7 linked regions of the Homo sapiens genome follow. The protein of the gene in region 1 purifies or fractionates together with the protein of each later gene. This does not show direct contact. Each region holds a gene or a part of one and is shown in the gene's direction. Other genes may lie near its edges. The genes, in order: CTTN, ARPC4, FMNL2, ARPC1B, AMOT, ARPC2 and CAPZA2.

What was found.
Region 2: the proteins of CTTN (region 1) and ARPC4 purify together in Homo sapiens (affinity purification with mass spectrometry; 2 studies listed by BioGRID and IntAct, with this or other methods). This does not show direct contact.
Region 3: the proteins of CTTN (region 1) and FMNL2 purify together in Homo sapiens (affinity purification with western blotting, with the first as the bait; one study listed by BioGRID). This does not show direct contact.
Region 4: the proteins of CTTN (region 1) and ARPC1B purify together in Homo sapiens (affinity purification with mass spectrometry; one large-scale study listed by BioGRID and IntAct). This does not show direct contact.
Region 5: the proteins of CTTN (region 1) and AMOT purify together in Homo sapiens (affinity purification with mass spectrometry; 2 studies listed by BioGRID and IntAct, with this or other methods). This does not show direct contact.
Region 6: the proteins of CTTN (region 1) and ARPC2 purify together in Homo sapiens (affinity purification with mass spectrometry; 2 studies listed by BioGRID and IntAct, with this or other methods). This does not show direct contact.
Region 7: the proteins of CTTN (region 1) and CAPZA2 purify together in Homo sapiens (affinity purification with mass spectrometry; 2 studies listed by BioGRID and IntAct, with this or other methods). This does not show direct contact.

Annotation. Positions count from the first base shown.
Region 1 is NC_000011.10:70,433,029-70,436,528, forward strand, and holds part of CTTN (src substrate cortactin), read left to right. Parts: intron 1-72; coding exon 73-250; intron 251-618; coding exon 619-690; intron 691-1,997; coding exon 1,998-2,134; 3' UTR 2,135-2,437; coding exon of another isoform or gene 2,438-2,716; 3' UTR 2,717-3,253; coding exon of another isoform or gene 3,254-3,380; 3' UTR 3,381-3,500.
Region 2 is NC_000003.12:9,805,342-9,807,601, forward strand, and holds the end of ARPC4 (actin-related protein 2/3 complex subunit 4), read left to right. Parts: intron 1-868; coding exon 869-874; 3' UTR 875-1,760; downstream 1,761-2,260. UniProt on the Homo sapiens protein: Actin-binding component of the Arp2/3 complex, a multiprotein complex that mediates actin polymerization upon stimulation by nucleation-promoting factor (NPF).
Region 3 is NC_000002.12:152,628,674-152,632,173, forward strand, and holds part of FMNL2 (formin-like protein 2), read left to right. Parts: intron 1-982; coding exon 983-1,051; intron 1,052-1,151; coding exon 1,152-1,232; intron 1,233-3,334; coding exon 3,335-3,464; intron 3,465-3,500. UniProt on the Homo sapiens protein: Plays a role in the regulation of cell morphology and cytoskeletal organization. Required in the cortical actin filament dynamics.
Region 4 is NC_000007.14:99,384,730-99,388,229, forward strand, and holds part of ARPC1B (actin-related protein 2/3 complex subunit 1B), read left to right. Parts: intron 1-972; 5' UTR 973-985; coding exon 986-1,049; intron 1,050-1,955; coding exon 1,956-2,060; intron 2,061-3,309; coding exon 3,310-3,500. UniProt on the Homo sapiens protein: Component of the Arp2/3 complex, a multiprotein complex that mediates actin polymerization upon stimulation by nucleation-promoting factor (NPF).
Region 5 is NC_000023.11:112,820,332-112,823,831, reverse strand, and holds part of AMOT (angiomotin), read left to right. Parts: intron 1-643; 5' UTR 644-705; coding exon 706-1,577; intron 1,578-3,500.
Region 6 is NC_000002.12:218,234,189-218,237,688, forward strand, and holds part of ARPC2 (actin-related protein 2/3 complex subunit 2), read left to right. Parts: intron 1-163; coding exon 164-209; intron 210-3,500. UniProt on the Homo sapiens protein: Actin-binding component of the Arp2/3 complex, a multiprotein complex that mediates actin polymerization upon stimulation by nucleation-promoting factor (NPF).
Region 7 is NC_000007.14:116,900,587-116,904,086, forward strand, and holds part of CAPZA2 (F-actin-capping protein subunit alpha-2), read left to right. Parts: intron 1-2,731; exon of another isoform or gene 2,732-2,857; intron 2,858-3,500. UniProt on the Homo sapiens protein: F-actin-capping proteins bind in a Ca(2+)-independent manner to the fast growing ends of actin filaments (barbed end) thereby blocking the exchange of subunits at these ends.

The DNA of each region.
Region 1 (3,500 bases):
TGTGGCAGTACAGCTACTGCTCTCTAGAAGCCAGCATGGGCCCCGTGCCATGTGCGTGTGACCCTTCCCCAGGATGCGGCTTCCTTCAAGGCAGAGCTGAGCTACAGAGGCCCTGTGAGTGGGACGGAGCCGGAGCCCGTGTACAGCATGGAGGCCGCTGACTACCGAGAGGCCAGCAGCCAGCAGGGCCTGGCCTATGCCACAGAGGCTGTCTATGAAAGCGCAGAGGCCCCGGGCCACTATCCCGCAGGTACTGGGGCCCCACGCTGCAGCGCCCTGCCCAGGGCAGGGAGCTCCCGGGACATCCTGCTCGACCTGTGGCGTCGTTGCGAGGAGCGTGGGTTTCCCACTGACACGCCTTTGCTTGCTTGCTATAGGGTCTTCTTGTCCCTGGAGGGAAGTGCTCTAGGCACATTTGGGGCATCGGCTCCTGTGCTGGGTCCCAGGAAGATCCCCATTGTGCTGGGGACGGGTGGGCAGGGGCAGAGGAAGGGAGGGTTTCAGCTGCCGCCCTGTGTCCTTGAGACAAAATCTTAGGAAGTGTCGTCTAAAACTTGAGAAGGCTGGGAACCTGTGTGGGACTTTGTATTGTTCAGCTCTGTCATGGCTTTCTTTTAGAGGACAGCACCTACGATGAGTACGAGAACGATCTGGGGATCACAGCCGTCGCCCTGTACGACTACCAGGCTGGTGAGCGGCCTGCAAAAGCACTTGGAGGGGAGACCCAGGCAGCTGCGCCTGCCTCTGCTTGTTTTCTGAGAATTCACTTCTCTAGCGTTGTTAGTTTTAGAAGTAATTTATGTTGAGATAATTTCAGAGATATAGAAAAGTTGCAGGTATAGTGCCAAGAACTCCCATGTTCCCTACCCGGATTCCATCTCTGCACACACACGCACACACCCCCTGTTATCTTTAGTATTCTCTGAACCCTTGGAGAGCTGCAGGGGTGCTGCCACCCCCAAAGACTCCAGCGTGTTTCCCAAGATCAAAGATGCTGTCCCACAGGGACACCCCACCCTCCAGGTGAGGGGGCCGCACAGATGCCTTGATGTTCGAGACCCCATTCCTGCCTGTCCTGCCCCGGCCGCCAGCTCCCGTGTGGCCTGCACGTTCCCCTGAGTTCCCTTTGCGGCCTTGGCAGTTTAAGAGCAGCCTCAGCTCCTGGGCTGGCCTCAGCCGCCCGCCCCGTGTTCCCTCAGGGCCAGGCTGAGCTGTGCTCTGGTGGCGGTGAGGTCTTGGAGACCATGCGGTGGGGCTCTCTGCTGGGCCGCATAGCATCCACTTGTCCCTCTGTCTCAGCCACCACCTGGTCCACAAAGTCACCACCACCCCTCTGCAGTTGACAAGCATCTTACGGGTGGCGTGGGATTCCCCTCAGAACCCCCGGCCTCTGCCTCTTGAGTGCTTCCCGTTTGCAACTTTCCATCAGCGCGGAAGCTGGCATTCTACCATAAGTGAGCGCTGGCCGTCCCCGTTCAGTGCCTTTTGCACACGTGCATTTGCGTACACGCATGTGGGTGTGTCTGTGGCATCTCGGCACCTGTGCGTGGATTCTCATCACCGTGGCTTTTGCCCTCCATTCCCATTTCAGCCATCACCTCGGGCTTCTCTCCGGGTGTCCCCTGGCTGTCCTTCCACTGCGGCCTCCGCAGCCCATCTCCCCACCCCCTCCACAGACACGTCTGCCAGAGAGAGGGGAAGGGAGGGCAGGCGGGGCTGGAGTTATGTGGTGGAAACCTGCTCCTGAGGAAGGGGTCCGGGTGGGGTTGGTGCTTGTGTGAAGGGCTCTGTGCCTCTTTGTACTCTCTCGGTTCATGTTCACAAATCCTGGCCTTGGTGGCATGGGAGAGGCAGCAGGAGCCTCCGCGGTGGTCCGCATCTCTGCAGGGGGCATCTCTGAGCAGGCTGCCTGGGAGCTTGCTCTGGGTTGTGCTTTTTTTCTGGCAGACCAGGAAACGCTTGCACTTCAGCATCTTTCTCTGTGTTCTCTTCCCCAGCGGGCGATGATGAGATCTCATTTGACCCTGATGACATCATCACCAACATCGAGATGATTGACGACGGCTGGTGGCGCGGGGTGTGCAAGGGCCGGTACGGGCTCTTCCCAGCCAACTATGTGGAGCTGCGGCAGTAGGGCCCCCAGCCCCCCCCCGGAGCTGCGCCCTGGATCCTCACACTACAGATCAGGCCTTCTTTGGTTCTTGGGTGGTTTTGGGTTTTTTCTGTTTTTTTTTTTTTTTTTTTTTTTTTGAAGGTGGGGAGGGGAATATACACATTGCTTTTATATTTAATACTTTTGCTGATGCTTTTGAAAATGTTTATGCCACAGAATTTGCTAATATATTGTAATCACATTCCTTAGGAGGACTTTGGTAATTGGTTTTATGCATTGATGGTTTTTTTTTTCTTTTTTGCCAAATTGACTGTCACGCGGCAGCTTCAGGGAGCTCGCATTCTCTTGTGTTCGTGTTGCCCTCGTGCCCATCAAGTGCAGTCGGGACCTCCCAGGACAAGCACGAGGCCTCAGGTCGGCCCTGTGGCGGGTAGGCAGGAAGGACTGTCCCAGACGAGGGGCTTCCTCTAGAGTCTCACTGCTGGGGAGGAGAGGACTGGGCCTGATGGAAGTTAACCCGGAGCTAAGTCACCCAGAGCACAGGAGCTGCCATGTCAGATGGGAAATCTGCCTATGTCATACCGTGACAGCCCGCAGGATCAGGTGACTTCTAGCAGAGACCCTGGTTTTTTTCCTGTGCCCACTCCGGCTTGTCCTCATCTCTACCCATCCCCTGATGCCCAGGTCACCGGGAGGGCTGCTGGGAGCCTCTCCTGTCCCCGCCGGGCAGTGTCACTGAGTCCTTGAAATCCTCCCCTGCCCCGCGGGTCTCTGGATTGGGACGCACAGTGCAGTTGAGGTCTGCGTCGGGCTTGGCTTTTCACAAAGGCTGATGTCTTAACTGTCACCCATATGGTCCCTGGGCCACCGGGCAGCCTGGGGCGGTGTGTGTGCCATGTCACAGCATGGCCTCTCGGCCTTGGGAAGGAAGGCAGTGCCTGCTCTGCTGTGAGCCGCCAGGAACCCTCCTCCTGTCAATGGGGGTGTAGTATTTTTGCCAAAATATCATGTTCAATTTCAGTAGTTTGATCAGTTGAAGGCTAGAAGTGTGAAGTGCAGATGAGTGTGTGTTCTTCCCCAAGGTCCCCCCACAGCTCCAGGACACCGCTGTCCTGGCATTTGTGGCCACTCACTTTGTAGGAAACTCATCTCCTTCCTGAGGAGCCGGGAGGCTGGACCAGTCCCGTCGTGCAGTCAGGTGGGCGGTGTGTCTTTCCAGAAGGTCACGTGGAAATGTCTCGGGACTTGGGTCCCGGAGTGCCCGTGAAGCGTGTTTTTGCTCCTGAGGTGCATTTTCTCATCATCCTTGCTTTACCACAATGAGCAATGAGGTCGGGTTTTATATGCAACTTATTGTATCTGAATTCCTGTAGCACACCTCATAGGT
Region 2 (2,260 bases), on another chromosome or scaffold:
CCCTCAGCCAGTAAGAGGAGGAACCAGAATGTGGAGCTGGGTTTTCGGACTCAGAGGTCTAAGAAAGTACCATAGCCTTTGTCAAGGGTCACAAATTCAGGTGCATCCAAAGGTCGGGTAGCTATGGAGTGGGCTGAGTATGGAGTGGGCAGGGTGAGGAGCTGCTGAGCGCATGCCTCATGTGCAGGGGCTGGCTCCCACACAGCTCCAGGCCATTGAACCCCCAAATTTGGATTTGTATATGGCATCTTCCATGTTTTCAAGGTTGGCAACTAATTCATATTGTTTTAAACACCATGTGGGCCATGCAGTGCTCATCTTTGGGCTAGTTTCAGGCATGGGCCATTGGTTCACAACCTTTGGTCTCTAAAATGTGCAGGGCTGTCCTAGGCAGCATGGGGGACCCTTGAGGGCAGAAAACATTTCAAGGGCCTGGCTTGGTTGGAGGTTCATCCAGAGCTTGACACAAAAGTACCAGAACCTGGGTCCTTTTCCACTTGGCCCTCTGAGTCCCCAGGCCCCTTGCATGAGAGCCCCCATGCCTAAAGAAAGCAACCTCAGTTCACCAGGCAGGACGCTGGCAGGGCTTTCTAGCAGCCTCCATGCCAGGGCACAAGGGAGCTGTGGAGAAGCTCTCATGGCTCTTAATTTTTCTGCCTTATCTAGTGCTAGGCTTAGGGCCGGTGCCCATAGGTCACTTCTGAAAGCTGGCTGAATTAGAGCATGACCACAAGGTGTCCTGGGACCCAACTCTGCCCCTCACAGATATGAGCACAGTGGCAGCTCTCAGGTTCATGCACCTCCTTAGAGCAGTGCCACCAGGATGCAATAATAACCACCATGCACTGCCTCTTGGTTCTCTTGACAGTTTTAAACCATCTGGCTGGATCTCGTGGCCTTCCCCCTCAGACTACCCATGTCTCCACGAAGGCGTCCTGGAGTCACTCCCCGAGCAGCGCGGCGGCGGCAGGGAGTTGGGTTGGGGTGGGCATTTGATGCGGGAGGTGGGTGGTGTGCTTGCTAGCTGGGCAAGAAAGCAGCAGTGGACCTGCCCCAAGGCCACACGTGCCTGGTCAGGCTGGCTTCTGATGTTCAGTCCCCTGGGCCGGGACAGATTTTTTTTAACGTCTTGAAACTTAAACTCTGTGCTTGTAGGATACTGTAACCTTTTTGTCTTTTTTTTTTTTTTTTTTTTTAAACCTCCACCTCCAGTGGCTGTGACTGGTCCCAGTGATTATACGTTATTGGTTGCTGTGGGTCTGGGCGGGCCTGGAGCCAGAAGGCGACTTATTTTTTCTCTCCTATGCCACCCCAGGTGGGGAGGGAGGGAGGTTTCAGACTCCAGTTTCTCCCTTGCCCTTTTATTCCCAAGCCTCCTTGGCCCCAGTATAAGTGTTGGGAACTCTCTGCCAGCTTCCTGAGTTCTGCCTAAAGATGGCCCCCCAGCACTGGTTGGGGACAAGGGCCAAATTGGTGACCACCAGTCATGCCTAGGACCTGGGGCCCAAAAGCCGGGCAACCTCTGGCTACAGGGGCCATTGGGTGCCCTCCCAGTTGAGAGGGGCCGCTGTTTCGCCTTGTCCGTCAGTGCCAGTGCCTGTGCCAGAGGTGGCGAGGTGAGTCCTCCAGAGCTTCCTGGCCGGGCCCTCCTCCTGCCTGTTCTGGCTCCTCTGCTCCCACGCTAGCTGTCCCTTTTCTGATTCTGGTGGATCCTCCCTCCCCTAATTAAAGTCTCTTTTTGCCCCTTTGGGGCTGCATGAGGTCTATGCTGTGTGTGTGTGTGAAAGGAGGGGAGGTGGGGCTTCTTTTCCCTGAGACCAGATGGCTGGTAATTGTGCCTGGAGCTCCCCACTGGGTGCAGTCTCATGATTGGTCCTGCCATTATTCCTGCCAGGGGTCCCAACCCAGAGACTCCATTCATTGCAGTCCAGGCACCATTAATTTCTGAAACTGCTCTGTCTGCCTATACAGAGCTTTGGTGCTTTTCACATAAGGAACTTACTTGGGCTAAAAAGTAACCTCAGAGAAACAGTGCTCCCATTTGGTGGATAAGGAAACTGAGGTTCCAAACATGAGATGTAATAGCTTGCCCCAAATCTAGCCAGTGAGCAAGAGAGTAGACTTTTGCCTGTGCCAAAACAGTAATCACCATCCACAAGTGGCTATTTAAATTTTAATTATTACAATTAAATAAAGTTTAAAATCCAGTTCCCCAGTCCCACTGGCAACTTAACAGCTACCAGTGACTGTACCATATATA
Region 3 (3,500 bases), on another chromosome or scaffold:
CAACCATCTTTTCCACATTATGTATGCAAAGTAAATTTGAAAAATGGGGAATGTTCATATTCCATATTGCCATTCTTCCGAAAGAATGCCATTTTTTGTGTCTACAGATGTTCTCTAGATTTCAAAAGGACAGGGGACAAAGAAACTTGGTTCTTTTCTCAAACTTGGTTCCTCTCTGAAGATACTAGTCTTCTGGCAGTGTTGGCAAGACTGAAAATAAGACTTTCATTTCTAAAAATGTTGCCTCATCTTTAGTGAGCAGACTTACAAGCTTTTGCTGAAAGCTTTATATTTACCATAAGAGTTTTCTTTCTTGGAAGTTTGTTATAATAAACTGTGGTGATATAGACATAATAGCCAACCATCTCTCATTCCCTTGTGTTAATCTGGTGGAGATTTATGAATATCATAAACTTCAGTTCTCTCCCAATTCTGTTTCTAAATAGACTTTGTTACTGATTATAGTAGTCAGTTCTTTCCCAATTCTGTTTCTAGATAAATTTGTTGGTTTCTGCTTATAGTAGTATGTCTGTTGAAAACATGTTCTGAGAACTTCTGGAGGGTGTTATATTCCCCTCCCTTTTTTTTCATTTTTGATGCCTCCTTCATTGATTTAAAAATATTAATTGTATGACATGATTAGAGGTGGTAGGCAGGAAATTGAGTTCTACCAGAAGCAGCTGTGGACTCTTAACTCTGAGTCTTAGTGGTTGTAGATTGGTTACAGATTTTGTGATAAGCAAGTTCCTATGTTACTTGCTATTGTGAACAGTTTCAGTAAAGATCGTGCATGTAACAATATTACCTGAGACCTAGCAAGACAATTAAATTTGTTATACTTAGAAAAAGTAGACTCTCACCATGAAGCCTGTATGCTCTAAATGCAGGCCTGTTTTCTTCTGTCTTAATATTTACTTGCCAATTAGTTTCCCATTTTTAACATGTCTTTTTTCCCCTTTTTCTTTCTTTGATTGGAATCTAGCAACTACATGCGATTATAGCAGCATCTGTCTCTATAAAGTCGTCCCAAAAACTCAAGAAAATTCTGGAGGCAAGTGCAGTTTTTCTTGTAGGTATGAAGGACTACTTCAGCTGCGTTCAGTGCCTGATGTGCTGTACTGATGGGCTTCTGTTTTCACCTTCTTTTGCAGATCATCTTAGCCCTTGGAAACTACATGAATAGCAGTAAAAGAGGAGCAGTTTATGGATTTAAACTTCAGAGTTTAGATCTGGTGAGTGGACTAAAAGAAATTTGAGAGCTGTTTGAAGGACAGATGGCTGGCAGAGATGAAGTTAGGGTGGTGGAGGATGTTTTGATGAATATTTTCTGCTATGGGAGGATCAACTGGTACTAATTTTCTGGAACACCATTTGACAGAGAGCACATAGAACCTATAATTACTCATACCCTTTGACTCAGTATTTCCATTTCTAGGAATTTTTTCTCAAGTGTCTGAATTTTGAATCCTGTATTTTATTTATAATTGCAAATTAACAATCTAAAGGTCTAACTGTGGGAATGATTAAATGTGCTGTAACACTAGTTAATACAGTGAACTATTATTCTTCCACCGTTAGCATACTGATGAAGAGTGTCCCAAGAAAGATTTGTGTTTAGAAAAGAAAGCAGGGTATGCTTTGCATGTACAGTTGAATCTCAGCTAAGTAAACTATGTGGGGAGAAAGACTGAATGGAAATAGGTTAAAATATTAGCAGAGGTTGGATGGAATCAGGAAATTTTTTCAAACTGCTTTTTGTAAGTACTTTTCTATATTTTCTTAAATTTTTGTTGTTGTTGTTGCATGCAGGGTGCTCTAATTTTCAGAGTCACCTAACTAATGTGAATAAGACTAGAGAAAATCCTCCGTGGACTCCCTCCAGACTGTGCAGGCCTAACGTGATTGTCACATGAGAAGGCTGGGCAGTGGGTTGAGTCCCCCGACCAGGGAGCTAGTTATTTAATATGGAGTGTCTAGTCAGTCACAGTTCTGGCCTCCAGCAGATCATGATCAGTTAAGCATGTCTGTTTCAGGTCTTCACAGGCTAGGAAATAAGGGAGGGCCTAAGCTAAATGTAAAAACTGGAGCATAGGAGCCCTGCTGTGTAGGAGGCACCTGCATGCACCTGCTGGCTGTACATCCCCATTTCTCCTCTGGCTTTTTACTTTGAAGAGCACTAAAATTAGAGCCGTCCTGCTTTTAAGGCAAGGAAGGTGGGATAGCAGATGCAGGGCTGGGAGAGTTCATGTAATCAGTGTCCCCCTTATCCATGGGGGCTGTGATCCAAGACCCCCAGTGGATGCCTGAAACCTCAGATAGTACTGAATCCTATATATACACTGTTTTTTTTCTAGAGATGCATATCTGTTATAAAGTTGAATTTATAAATTAGGCACAGTGAGAGATTCACAATAACTAAAAAATAAAATAGGCCAGGCCTGGTGGCTCACACCTGTAATCCCAGCACTTTGGGAGGCTGAGGCGGGAGGATCACCTGAGGTCAGGAGTTTGAGAGCAGCCTGGCCAACATGGCGAAACCCTGTCTCTACTAAAAATAGGAAAATTAGCTGGGCTAATTTTTGGGTCACAGGCACCTGTAATCCCAGCTACTCGGGAGGCTGAGGCAGGAGAATCGCTTGAACGCAGGAGGTGGAGTTTGTAGTGAGCCAAGATTGTGCCACTGCACTCCACCCTGGGCGACAGAACGAGACTCCATCTCAAAAAAAAAAAAAAAAAAAAAAATAGAGCAGTTAAATAAAACACGTTACTTGAACACAAACACTGCAATAGGCGGCAGTTAACCTGATAACCCAGATGGCTACTAAGTGATTAATGGCAGGTAATGATTACAGCGTGGATCCACTTGACAAAGGGGTGATTCTCGGTCTAGGGTGGATGGGAATGGCACGTGCGAGGTTTTATCATGCTGCTCAGAGTGGTGCGCAATTCAAATCTGATGAATTGTTTATTTCTGGAATTTTCCACTTAGTATTTTTGGATACCTGAAACCTGTGGGTTTCCTGAAACCATGGGAAGTAAACCTGTGGGTAAATAGGAACTACTGTAGAGGAAAGCTGCGAATCATTCTTAGGTGCTTAGAGTCATCCCTATAGTTAAGCATGTGCCCTGGTTGGAAAGTCCTTGAGCCAGTTAAGCATCAATGGACTGGTTCACTAAGGAACAAATGGAATCCTGACCCTCCTCTGGGAATGCTCCAGCCTGTTGGGCGACTGTTACTCAGTTAATGACTCTGGGTGGGAAATCGTCACCTGAGGGGTAAGTGTCTTGTTACCCTTTACTCTTGTACCTAACCCACGTTCCCTTTTGTTTTCAGCTCTTAGATACAAAGTCAACAGACAGAAAGCAAACACTGTTGCACTATATATCCAATGTGGTGAAAGAAAAATATCACCAAGTGTCCCTGTTTTATAATGAGCTTCATTATGTGGAAAAAGCTGCTGCAGGTACTTGATTTCAGCTATTACCGTTCGTCTTGGGTA
Region 4 (3,500 bases), on another chromosome or scaffold:
CCCCTGCAGACCGGCCACCTCCCTTCTCCCCGTCTGAGCAGTGTGGGGGAAGACCAGGGCTCTGGGCACGGCAGGGCCAACTGCCATGTGCTGGACACCTTTCTAGGTGGTTTATGAGATTACTTCATTTCTTTTTTTTTTTTTTTTTTCTGAGATGAGTCTTGCTCTGTCACCCAGCCTCCTGAGTAGTGGGGATTACAGGCAGGTGCCACCACACCTGGCTAATTTTTTTTTTTTTTTTTTTTTTTTTTTTTGAGACGGAGTCTCACTCTGTCGCCCAGGCTGGAGTGCAGTGGTGCGATCTCGGCTTACTGCAAGCCCCGCCTCCCAAGTTCACGCCATTCTCCTGCCTCAGGCTGGGACTACAGGTGCCCGCCACCACACCCGACTAATTTTTTGTAGTTTTAGTAAAGACGGAGTTTCACCATGTTGGCCAGGCTGGTCTTGAACTCCTGGCCGCAAGTGATCCGCCTGCCTCGATCTCCCAAAGTGTTGGGATTACAGGCATGAGCCACCGGGCCTGGCCTGGATGACTTCATCTTCATCCCATCCTTAATGGGGCAGGGGAAGTTGGGTGGGGGGGGGGGGGTCGTCCATCCTATGAGGAAACCGAGGCACAGATGACAAGTGAGGGGCCTGTCCAGCTTGGAGTCCTAGCACCCCACCCCGCCCCAGGGAGCATCTCCCCTGTAGTACCGTCTCCTCCACCCTGTCCCTGGAGCCTCAGAGACATCCTGTGAAAGCTGCCCTTTTATAAGGAGGGAAACTGAGGCCCCAGGAGGGGAAGCAACATGTCAGGCCAGTTGGGAGCCAGGGCTGGCCCCTGCTGCTCCTCTCTGCAAACTGCTGCCCCTCTAAACTGAGGGGCCTCCCTGGTGTGAGGCCTGTGAGGATCATCTGGGGCCTGGTATGGGTGAAGTCAGGGGCAAGGTTGGGGCTGACGTGGATTCTCTCTTCCTCTCTCGGGCACAGGAGCCAAGCCGCCATGGCCTACCACAGCTTCCTGGTGGAGCCCATCAGCTGCCACGCCTGGAACAAGGACCGCACCCGTGAGTGCTTGCTGGGGGCCGGTGGGTGGCTGCTTCCACCTCCTGGGATGGGGACCAGCCAGAGCACACATGGGGACTCTGGAGCAGCCAGGCCCCCGGACCATGGGCTCCATGTGGCTGTCCCCTGGCCTCACCCCTGGGTCTTCCAGCTGACCAGGGGCCTCCTGGGTTAAAGTTTAAGGAGGGAATGGGCCAGTTGCGGTAGCTCATGCCTGTAATCCCGGCACTTTGGGAGGCTGAGGTGGGTGGATCACTTGAGGTCAGGAGTTCCAGACCAGCTTGGGCAACATGGTGAAACCCTGTCTCTACTAAAAATACAAAAATTACCTGGGCGTGGTGGTGGGTGTCTGTAATCCCAGCTACTCGGGGGGCTGAGGCACGAGAATTGCTTGAACCCAGGAGGCGGAGGTTGCAGTGAGTCGAGATTGCACCACTGCACTCCAGCCTGGGCAACAAAGCGAGACTCTGTCTCAAAAAAAAAAAAAGAGAGAAAGAAAGAAAGAAAAAGTGACCAAGAAAAAGCCTTTCGGAGGAGATGACATTTTGACATTTACCCAGAGACCCAGAGGGGGAGAGGAAGGGAACTGTGCCCCAGCTGGGGAGGGGCTGGCAGGTGCAGGGGCCCTGAGGTGTCAGCAGGAGCAGCGAAGGGTTCCTGGTTGGCCAGAGCAATAGGGTGGGGAGAGGTCCCAGGGTTCATTGCTGCGAGTAAAGGACAGCCAGTTCCAGGAGAAGACAGGGTGGCCTAGCAGGGCCTGAAGGACTTCAGGGGGCCCCTGCAAGGCAGAAGAGGAGAGACTGAGTCATGAAAGGTGAGGTGTTGTTGCCTAGGTGCACTGTGTAGTGTGTCCTGGCAGAGGGCAGTCATGGAGAGGGCCCCTCAATCTCCCTCCATCTCCCCTTCAGAGATTGCCATCTGCCCCAACAACCATGAGGTGCATATCTATGAAAAGAGCGGTGCCAAATGGACCAAGGTGCACGAGCTCAAGGAGCACAACGGGCAGGTGACAGGTATGTCAGGGTGGCTGGGACCACCGTCCTGAAAGGAGGTGGTGGGTTGGGGGGGTGGTGCAAGGCAGGGCATGGCCACTCATTGTGGAGCATCTGCCCACTCACCGTGAAACCCGGATTCAAACTGGCTTCAATTTTAAGGGGACTGTGTTGGCTCATGTTACCAAAAACTCACAGGGTTGAGGGCTTCAGGAGAGGCTTGATCCAGCAGCTCCACATGACCAAGAACCCATCTTTTCTGCCTCTTGGCTTTGCCCTCCAGCATGTTTGCTGATAGCATGGAGGGCTCTGACACTCCCTCATAAGCTCTAGGAGTGCCCCCTGGTGTCACTCTAAATAAGCACTGGATCTCAGTAAAAAGTGCTTGCTGGGCCGGGTGCAGTGGCTCATGCCTGTAATCCCAGCACTTCAGGAGGCCAAGGCGAGTGGATCGCTTGAGGTCAGGAGTTCGAGACCATCCTGGCCAACATGACTAAATGTTGAAAAATACAGAAATTAGCCGGGTGTGGTGGCACGCACCTGTAGTCCCAGATACTCTGGAGGCTGAGGCAGAAGAATCGCTTGAACCCAGGAGGCGGAGGTTGAAGTGAGCTGAGATTGCACCACTGCACTCCAGCCTGGATGGCAGAGCGAGACTGTGTCGCAATAAAAACAAAGAAAGAAAGAGGCCGGGTGCGGTGGCTTGCGCCTGTACTCCCAGCACTTTGGGAGGCGGAGGCGGGCGGATCACCTGAGGTCAGGAGTTCAAGACCAGCCTGGTCAACATGGTGAAACCTCATCTCTACTAAAATACAAAAATTAGCCAGGCATGATGGCGGGTGCCTGTAATCCCAGCTACTTGGGAGGCTGATATGTGAGAATTGCTTGAACCCGGAAGATGGTGGTTCCAGTGAGCTGAGATCGTGCCAGTGCACTCCAGCTTGGGCGGCTGAGCGAGACTCTGTCTCAAAAAAAAAAAAAAAAAAAAAAGATTGGTGGTACACACCTGTAGTCCCGGCTACTCAGGAGGCTGAGGCACGAGGATTGCTTGAACCTGGGAGGCAGAGGCTGCAGTGAGCTGAGATCATGCCACTGCACTCCAGCCTGGGTGACAGAGCGAGACTCTGTTTCAAAAAAAAAAAAAAGTGCCTGCTGGGCAGATACAGCTTCCACCTGGATGGTGGCCTTTCAGCCTCTCCCATGTGGCCACCATACAGCCACCTCTGCCTGAGTGTCATCAGCCTCCTGTGTTCCCTCCATCCCCCCACAGGCATCGACTGGGCCCCCGAGAGTAACCGTATTGTGACCTGCGGCACAGACCGCAACGCCTACGTGTGGACGCTGAAGGGCCGCACATGGAAGCCCACGCTGGTCATCCTGCGGATCAACCGGGCTGCCCGCTGCGTGCGCTGGGCCCCCAACGAGAACAAGTTTGCTGTGGGCAGCGGCTCTCGTGTGATC
Region 5 (3,500 bases), on another chromosome or scaffold:
AAGTCCTTCTCTTATTAAGCCAAGGAGCATCCAAAATGGAGACTATGAAAATGATTTTTTAAAAAGATGTTTCAGAGCCTTATGAGATCAGAGAAAAAGATTTGCATCGAGGCAGGGATCATTACTGTCTGGTGCAAGCCAAGCTCTCTTCACCTTTTATTTATTTGAGTCTTTATTTTGCATTTTGTAGCTGCCTTCATATGCTGAGCTGCTTTACAAATCCTGTTATGGGGTAACTTTCCCCACTGTCCTGCCCCCACCTCCACAGCCATAAGATTTGGGTTTTTGCTTTAAATAGAATACAGAGAGATGAAGCCTGTGAATATGGACCTTGAAAAGTTACCCCCTTTGATTACCCTAGTTGACTGTTCCAGGTTTCTCAAGCATTCTTAGGAGTTAAGTCCAGATTGAATATTTAACTCATGCTAAAAGTGAAAGAGAAAACCTAGAGCTCTTATGCCTCCATGTTCTTCATCATATCAGTGCTAGGGCCTGGAATCCCCAACAATCTATTAATTTTAGAGTCAATTCTCTACTTTGTTTCTGCAATCGAATCCTCACCCTCCAATATCCATTTTCTTTCCCTTTAGAGGACTGATTTATCCATCAACTGGGTGTTAAGCTTCCTGTTTCCCCTTCCCAGGTCAAGGGCAGCCCAGGTGCCCAATTTCTCTCTCTCTTCACAAGGCACCACCAGCAATAGAGATGAGAAATTCTGAAGAACAGCCAAGTGGAGGGACCACGGTATTGCAGCGTTTGCTACAAGAGCAGCTTCGCTATGGCAATCCTAGTGAGAATCGCAGCCTGCTTGCCATACACCAGCAAGCCACAGGGAATGGCCCTCCTTTCCCCAGTGGCAGTGGGAACCCGGGCCCTCAGAGTGATGTGTTGAGTCCCCAAGACCACCACCAACAGCTTGTGGCTCATGCTGCTCGACAAGAACCCCAGGGGCAGGAAATCCAGTCAGAAAACCTCATCATGGAGAAGCAGCTGTCTCCTCGAATGCAAAATAATGAAGAACTCCCGACCTATGAAGAAGCCAAGGTCCAGTCCCAGTACTTTCGGGGCCAACAGCATGCCAGTGTTGGAGCTGCCTTCTATGTCACTGGAGTCACCAACCAGAAGATGAGGACTGAGGGACGCCCATCAGTTCAGCGGCTCAATCCTGGAAAGATGCACCAAGATGAGGGACTCAGAGACCTTAAGCAAGGGCATGTCCGTTCCTTGAGTGAACGACTAATGCAGATGTCACTGGCCACCAGTGGAGTTAAGGCCCATCCACCTGTTACCAGTGCTCCCCTCTCCCCACCACAACCCAATGACCTCTACAAGAATCCCACAAGTTCCAGTGAATTCTACAAGGCCCAAGGGCCACTTCCTAACCAGCATAGCCTGAAGGGCATGGAACACCGAGGCCCCCCACCAGAATATCCCTTCAAGGGCATGCCACCCCAATCTGTAGTGTGCAAGCCCCAAGAGCCAGGGCACTTCTATAGTGAGCATCGCCTGAACCAGCCAGGGAGAACAGAGGGGCAACTGATGAGGTATCAGCATCCCCCTGAGTATGGAGCAGCCAGGTAAGAGAGTTCTGTTTCTGTCATTTCCTGACCTCATCCCCAACCAGCTTCTGCTGTGTGTTGGGAATCTTAGGGAAGGAACGGGCAGGTGTTTGATATAACAAACTCTGCAATGCATGACAGGCCTCTGGCTTCGTGAATTGCCTGCCAACCCGAATTTGTATCCTCTTTAGCCATAATTAGCACTGTATTAACAATCCCTTAGCTTTGTAGGTTGAGCATGGCCTCAACTGCCTAGTGGACGAACAGGAGCAAAAGTCTTGTTTTCAGCAGCTATTTGCTGTCCTCTCTCCTAGGATGTTGAAGGGGTCTGTGTTTCTCATAAGCCCTCCTTGAGAGGTAGAAGCAAATTACCTTGCACTTTAATTAGTCTGGAACATCCTATCACTTGCACATATTCCCCTCCATGAAGCTTTCATCATTTATTTTTGCAAACAAATCTGTGTATTTCTTGTCAGTTACCATTTTTCCATAGAATTACCATTATTCTTTTGGACTAAACAAACACCCAGATGTTATGGTGGGGGAGCTATGTATGTATGTAGGTTCAGAATGTTACTTGCCTTATGCTTGCAGTTTATGAAATCTGGACTGTTGTATCTTTTTTTTGTAGAGAATTTATTAGTTGCCTGTCACATTTTTAAACCTCTGAGTTAAATTCCCATCACATCATATAGAAATTTTGGTCAGATGCTAAAATACAGAAGGAAAAATATTACCATTTCTGTCTTATATATTTAGTTGTTCCTATATATACTTCTTAATTATTCAGAGGTCCATTGTCCCACTGCTATATTCACTAGACCTTATGATTCTATGATTCTGTTCATTGTTCCTGTTGTTAGTATTTGGGCCATGTCTCTGATCAGTAGTATTTCCACATATAGGGCAGGAGAAAAGGTTTAAACCATGGGGACCGATGGTGGCATTTAAGTGTGGTATCCTGCCTCATGGCCATGAGTAATGATGGGTGACCATCAGGTTTGAAGTGCTTGGTCCTAGGCTGGCCTTCATTTATATGCGGCTCACAGACTAGGTCTGTGATGTCCTTTGATGTCTACCTCTTTGTCTCCTGTACCCTACTTGCTCATTTTGGAAAAAACCTTCTGGCTTGAAGTTCATTGAGTGACTCAGGAGAGAAGGCAGTCATGGGGTGGAGTAGGGTGAAAGTGAGAGAAGGCACCTAGCATTTCCTGGTATTTCTTTTTTTTCCCCTGCAGGTCCTGTTTTTGTAGCCAGAGGCAATTCACTTTGGACTCCACCTCTAACTTTGCCAGTTTAGGATTTTTTTTTTTTTTTCCCTCTTAACCCAGGTTGATTTCCTAACCCTTTTCAACCTCCTCTGTGCAGCTTTCAAAGGGCAGGAGCCTATGTTCTGATCAGTGTCTTGGAACAGGAAATGGGGTAACCAACAAGGCTACTCAGGTTTAAAAGAGATCAAGAACCAGATTCCCATCTGACCAATGAAACAGAAGACCCAGGGAGGGGTTGGTCTGTTCAAGACTGCCTCACTTAGTGGAAACCCATTCAAGCCAGCAAAATATCAATGAAGCTGGGGGTTTTTATTTTGCTTTTCCCATCAGTATGGAAGAGTCTGTTGATGGGCTGATGTCTGTTGCCTTGTGGGAGGGGAGTGTGTTGGCTGGGGTGTGGAGCAGAAGCCACAGCCCCACTCAGCACACAGCCCGCCTTCCCAGGAAAGCTATTTTCAGAACTCATTCACCAGTATTGTTTGTGATCTGAAATGACTCCCACAGTGTTTGAAGCTAGATGGAAAATTATCTGCCCTTTGATCTGCCTAAATAAATAATGAGGAGCCCAAAGAGGTTTTCTTTTTTTTTCCTTTTCTTCCCATCCTGATTAAACCACCGGAGAAATTTAGCTGCATGTATTTTACAGGAAGATACATATTTTTTATCCTCC
Region 6 (3,500 bases), on another chromosome or scaffold:
CTAAATCCACTTCCCCTCTGTCTCTACTTTCCCATCCACCAAATGAAAGTTAGGAAGAATGCCAACTTAGGAAGAGCTTGGCAAGTGCAGTACTTTAAAAATAATGAAATTATCATGGCCTTTGGATTAACGTATTTGGTTTTGTTTTGTTTTTATTTTCTAGTTATTAAAGAGGGTGTACGGGAGTTTCTTGGTAAATCCAGAATCAGGTATGTAGTCATGTGAGCAACTATGGAATGACATGGGAAGAGAGGTGTCCTTTTTATATTATGCTTTTTTTACCCAAAGGATTTCGTTTAAATATTATTACAAATATTTCTGCATGAGCCCATTCCTAATTTCAACTCCGTCCATAAAAATAGCTTTTAAGGGGCTTTGCTTTGTCCAATATGGAACACAGTAGAGGTACAAAATTGATGTGTGACATTTTTAACATTTACTTGATGGGGCCACATGACTCTTACTTAATCTTTCAGCCAGAGGGCCACATTTGTTTGTTCATGGTGATTAAAATGGCTTTGAAAAGAATGAGCAAACATTGATTCCCACCCTCGGCCCTTAGTAATTCTGCATACTACATATTTGGAGAAAGAAGAGGAATATTCACCACACTATTCTTGTGATTTCAAGTAATAAAAATCAGACCCTTTCTTAATCCAGTCTTCTAATAGGTTGTCTCAACATTCATGGCCAGAGGAATTGAAAGGCACCGTGTCATCCTTGAATAGAACAGCTATGTTATACTGCTTTAAAAAGGAGGTTTAAAGTGGAAAAACTGAACAGCCTTTTTACCCTGTGATTCAGTGGCATGTCTCAAATTCTGAGGCATTTAGCAGGACCCCAAAGTGAGAACCAGGTAGTAAGACCATTGGAACATAATATTTTTTACTCAACTATTACAACTTTGGTACCTTGATTAGAAAAGTCTTCTAAGAAGGAAGTTCTCTGTCACTCTTAACAGCAGTTACTTGTGCTAGCTTATTTCATCACCTCACCTATTTTTTCAGACAGTCTCATTCTGTTGCCCAGGCTGGAATGCAGTGGTACAGTCATAGCTCACTGCAGCCTCCTCCAAATCTTGGGCTCAAGCAATCCTCCCGCTTTAGCCTCTCCGGTAGCTGGGAACTACAGGCACATGCCACCATACCCAATTAATTTTTTTAATATTTTGTAGAAACAGAGTCTCACTGTCTGCTGCCCATACTGCCAAAACAGAGTAAGGAGGTCTCAAACTCCTAGCCTTGAGCAATCTACCCACCTCAGCCTCCGCCTCCCAGAGAGTTGGGATCACAGGCATGAGCCACCATACCCAGCACCTTTTTTTTTTTTAATCTCCAAATTGGCGGGATGAATGTGTCACAGAAATAAAAGCCAAGATAACACTGTAGGCTTTTGGCAAAATCAAGGTATTAAAAGAAAGAAACAAACAGATCTAGAACAGAAAAATCATGTCCAAAGTCTTGGGCATGCTTGTCACAGCCAACATCCTGACATGGAAAGTTTATGTTTCTGTCCCTGGGCCTCCTTCTACCTCCCACTAAATCATAGACATTGCCAGATTGCAGACCCTGTCTTCATAGAAGTGTGAAATGTAAAAGTGTGTGAAAGTAGTGTCTCAACCAGGTGCAGTGGCTCACACCTGTAATCCCAGCACTTTGGGGAGGCCAAGGTGAGTGAATTGCTTGAGCTCAGAAGTTCAGGACCAGCCTGGGCAGCATAATGAGATACCTGTCTCTATAAAAAATACAGAAATTAGCCAGGCATGGTGGCAGCCACCTGTAATACCAGGTACTCAGGTGGCTGAAGCACGAGAATCGCTTGAACCCAGGAGGCAGAGGTTGCAGTGAGCTGAGATTGCGCCACTGCCCTCTAGCCTAGGCGACAGAGCAAGATTCAGTCTCGAGAAAAAAAAAAAAAAGACCGTAGAGTCTCTCCTCCTCTTTTTTAATGGGTTTATCTAGGCACGTTTGGAAAACTCAGCAAGTTATACTAGATTTTTACTTCTCTTCATCCTCAGTATATTCTGTTCATCATGTTAGAAGCCTTACTTAAAGACAGACTTTACCTTAGCTATAGTTTTATTTGCTCTTATTTGGCTTCCTAAAACTAGCAAACCTCAGCTCTAAATCTTTTCTTTTTTAATCTAACCTTGTAATCTGTGTGCTTATTTGGTTTTCAAGTACCCAAAATAGAATGATGATTGATATTATTTAATACTGGAGTGCCTCTCCAGTATTAAATAAAATGTGCTAAGCATTATCTAGAGCAAAGATTTAGCCCATCCTCCCGAAGAGCCCATGCTCAACAAAAAACACAGACCTCAGCCGGGCGCGGTGGCTTATGCCTGTAATCCCAGCACTATCGGAGGCCAGGGCGGGCGGATCACCTGCATTCAGGAGTTCAAGACCAGCATGACCAACATGGAGAAACCCCGTCTCTACTAAAAGTACAAAATTAGCCAGGCCTGGTGGCGCATGCCTGTAATCCCAGCTGCCTAGGAGGCTGAGGCAGGAGAATCGCTTGAACCTGGGAGGCGGATGTTGTGGTGAGCCGAGATCATGCCATTGCACTCCAGCCTGGGCAATAAGAGTAAAACTCCATCTCAAAAAAAAAAAAATACAGATCTCAGGAATGCTTTTGGGAAAAAATGAAATAGTAATGAGGTTTCAGATACTTAGAAGTGTGAAAGCCATACAGTTCTGGTGAAGTTATTCCCGTCAGTTGCCTAGAATATAAAATGATCCTCAGTGATGTAGAAATATTCTTGCAAAAACATCTCTAGGCAGTTTGACACTTATTAATCATTTGATTCTATAATCAAGTGTTCCAGCCGGCTTCTGGGAATTCATAGTGGACATGCTGTAAAAAGGCAGGTCATCCAATGGTTTCAGTCCATGTTCTGCACCCGTATTGATGACCTGTCATGTTCCACACACTTTAAGTATTGAACATTCTTTTAATGCTCACAACATTCTCCCCTATCTCCGCACCCCCTGCCCTGCTCCTTTTTCTTTTTTTCTTTTTTTTTGAGACAGAATTTCACTCTTGTTGCTCAGGCTGGAGTGCCGTGGCGCGATCTCAGCTCATTACAACCTCCACCTCCCGGGTTCAAGCAATTCTCCTGCCTCAGCCTCCGGAGTACCTGGGACCACAGGCGTGTACCACCACACCCAGCTAATTTTGTATTTTTATTAGAGACGGGGTTTTGCCATATTGGCCAGGCAGGTCTCGAACTCCTGACCTCAGGTGATCCACCCACCTTGGCCTCCCAAAGTGCTGGGAATACAGGCTTGAGCCACTGTGCCCAGACCACCCTACCTGCCCCCCACCACCAATTTTTTTTTTTTTTTAACAGATGAGGAAATTAACAAGTCAGGCAATTTTTTTTGTTTTTGTTTTTTTTTTTTGGAGCTGGAGTCTCGCTCTGTTGTGCAGTGGTGCAATATCAGCTCGCTGTAACCTCCACCTCCTGGGTTCAAGCAATTCTCCTGCCTCAGCCT
Region 7 (3,500 bases), on another chromosome or scaffold:
GAATAAGCTTCATCAAAAAAAGGCATACGATTATGAAGAAAATAGTGACGGTCTTCTCAAGCAACAAAAGCAAAAACTGACACATGGGATATAATTAAAGAGCTTCTGCACAGCAAAGGATACTATCAACAGAGTAAACAGACAACCTACAGAATGGGAGACAAATTTTGCAAATTATGCCTCTGACAAAGGTTTAAATCCAGCATCTATAAAGAACTTAAATTTAAAAGATAAAAACAAGCGCATTAAAAAGTGGGCAAAGGATATGAACAGACACTTTTCCAAAGCAGACATACTTGAGGCCAAACAAGCATATGAGAAAAAAGATCACCATCACTGATAATTAGAAAAATGCAAATCAGAACCACAATGAGATACCATTTCAAACCAATCAGAATGGCTATTATTAGAAAGTCAAAAAATAACAGATGCTGGTGAGGTTACGGAGCAAAAGGAATGCTTATACACTGTTGGTGGGAGTGTATATTCAACTATTATAGAAGACAGTGTGGCGATTCCTCAGAGATCTAAAAACGGAATTACCATTTGACCCAGCAATCCCATTACTGGTTATATACCCAAAGGAACAGAAATCATTCTATTATAAAGAAACATGCTCACATATGTTCATTACAGCACTATTCACAATAGCAAAGACGTGGAATCAATCTAAATATCAGTGATGATAGACTAGGTGAAGAAAATGTGGCATATATACACCATAGAATACTATGCAGCCGTGAAAAAGAACAAGCTTTATGTCCTTTGCAAGAACATGGATGGAGCTGAAGGCCATTATTCTTAGCAGACTAATAAAATATCTTAGCAGAAAATCAAATATCACATGTTCTCACTTATTAGTGGGAGATAATGATGAGAACACATGACACATAGAGGGGAACAAAACACACTGGGACCTATCAGAGGATGAAGGGTGGGAGGAGGGAGAGGATCAGGAAAAATAACTAATGGGTACTAGGCTTAATACCTGGGTGATGAAATAATCTGTGCAACACCTGCATGACACAAGTTTACCTATATAATAAACCTGCACATGTACCCCTGAACTGTTAAGAAAGAAAATAGTGATACTCTTCTTGAAACACATAAAACAGGATCTGACCAATGGAAAGGTGCTCTACATTCCATTCTTAGATAGAAAATTAAATTATTTTAAAAGTAATGTATGGATTTGATGAAATTTGAATTAGAATCCTGATCAGTTTTTTTTTAATTGGTCAATATTTTCATAAAGTTTATGTGGAAAAAAAAACATGCTTGAAATAACGAAGAAATGTGTGTGTGTGTGTGTGTGTGTGTGTGTGTATGTGTGTATATATATATATGTATATATTTATGAAAAAACCATTAAGCACAATGAGGGAGAATTGCCTTACCAGATAGTACAAGTTGTTTTACAGCCAATGTTAAGTCAATGTGGTGGTGTATGGAGTAGACAAAAAATCATTAGAGCAGCATGGAGAACCAGAATTTAGTCTCAGAATATATGAAAAATTTTATACAGATATTGGCATAACTGGTTTCTATAAGAAGAAAATTAAGTTGGACCTCTGTCACATACAGTATACAGAAATAGATTTCAGGTGGTTTTAAAATGTGAAAAGTGGCTAACATTTTAGAAGAAAATCTGAGTCTACATGTGCAATACAGGGCTAGGGAGACCATCTTAAATAACACTGGATACCCAGGAAGTATAAAAGATGGACATTTTACTATAAATGTTTTTAACTGTAGAATGAAGCCTATCTTAAAGAACTCTTATAAATTGATAAGAAAAAGACACCAGATAAAAATATTTTATTATATTTGCTCACAGAAGAGCAAATGACCCACAAATGTGAAAAGCCATACTTAGTTTTATCAGTAGTCAGTGGAATTAAAATGATATATTTTCTACCATCAGACTAAAAAAAGAGCTATAGTGCCTATCATTGGTGGTAATATGGATGGAAACATACTCTCATATATGTGTAGAAATTTGGATTGTCACAGGAGTATATATTAAAAATTATAATACCTGATGTCCCTACCACCACTGCTTGGGAATTTATTCAATAGAAATAAAAGGATCCAATGGAAATAAAAACATCAGTATGTTAAAATATATGTACAGCAATACTCATTTCACCTTTTTTGTTGTTGTTATTGAGTCAGGGTCCTGCTCTGTCACCCAGGCTGGAGTGCAGTGACACAATCACAGCTCGCTGCAGCCTCAATCTCCTGGGCTGAGTAGCTGGGACTACAGGCACATGCCACCACGACTGACTAATTTTAAAAAATTTTTTTGTAGAGATGAGGTCTTACTATGTTGCCCGGGCTGGTCTCAACCTCCTGAGCTGAAGCTATCCTGCCCCCTTGGCCTCCCAAAGCACTAGGATTACAGGCATGAGCTACCACACCCAGTCTTATTTCACCATTTTTAATGTGTTCCTCCTTTCCCCGAAAAAGGAAACAGCCCAGAAATAAAGAGATGGCACATCAGTAGTGGATTGGCAGACTAAATTATGTTATAATCACGTCATGGGACATTATGCAGCCATTTAAAAGAATGGTGAGAAATATATCACTTGACTTTGAGGGATTTCCATAGGATGTTTATATTGAAAGAAGCCAGATGCAGAGAAGAGTGTGTGTGTGTGTGTGTGTGTGTGTGTGTGTGTGTGTACGTACACACACACATTTTCATTGCATTCTTATAAAATAATGACCAGTCGCTTCTCGGCCTTTTGGCTAAGATCAAGTGTAGTAAAATAATGACCAAAAAATTCTGTGTGTATGCAAGTATAGACATGTGTATATCTTTATCTGTAAGATTTTATGACTATGAAAAAAAATTTAGAAAGGTATATCCTGTGTTGTTAGCATGATATATATCAGAGGGATGGATAAGTCCCGACATAGCTAAGGAGTCAAAGACTGGAAGAATTACAAGAGAAGGAAAAGGGGAAATTTTTTAAATAAAGCACAAAATATCAGATTATACATTATGCATTGTGGATGTATTATTTAAATTTATGGAAATGAAGTATGTTTTTAAATACTTGGAAGTCAATTAAAATCAGTTGTCAATGTAGTTTTTAAGAAGCAAGAAACAGATACGTCAAAGTAGGTAAGACTGTGGGCCCAGAGGCAAGGTGGGGGACACACCAAAGAGGATTTGCACCAGACCAAAGCCATTCAGGTAACCACCCTGATTGGAGGTTCTCACAAGTTCTGTAGTTTTGAGGAACTGGAGTCTGATACCAGACATTGTAAACTGTTAGAGTTCTCAAAGCAGAAAACCCACCAAACCCACTTGAACAGTGTTTTTAGAGGTTGCATTTTTTTTCACCAGTAGCTGGAAGTTATATTGGGAGAAAATCTGATCTGCACTGGATGAGAGTAATGTCATTGTCTGTATAGTCAACTCATTTGAAGTATTAATAGTTGTACCATATGGTTAAAATATATGCTTGGAGTAGGATTGTTTTATAGTTTTA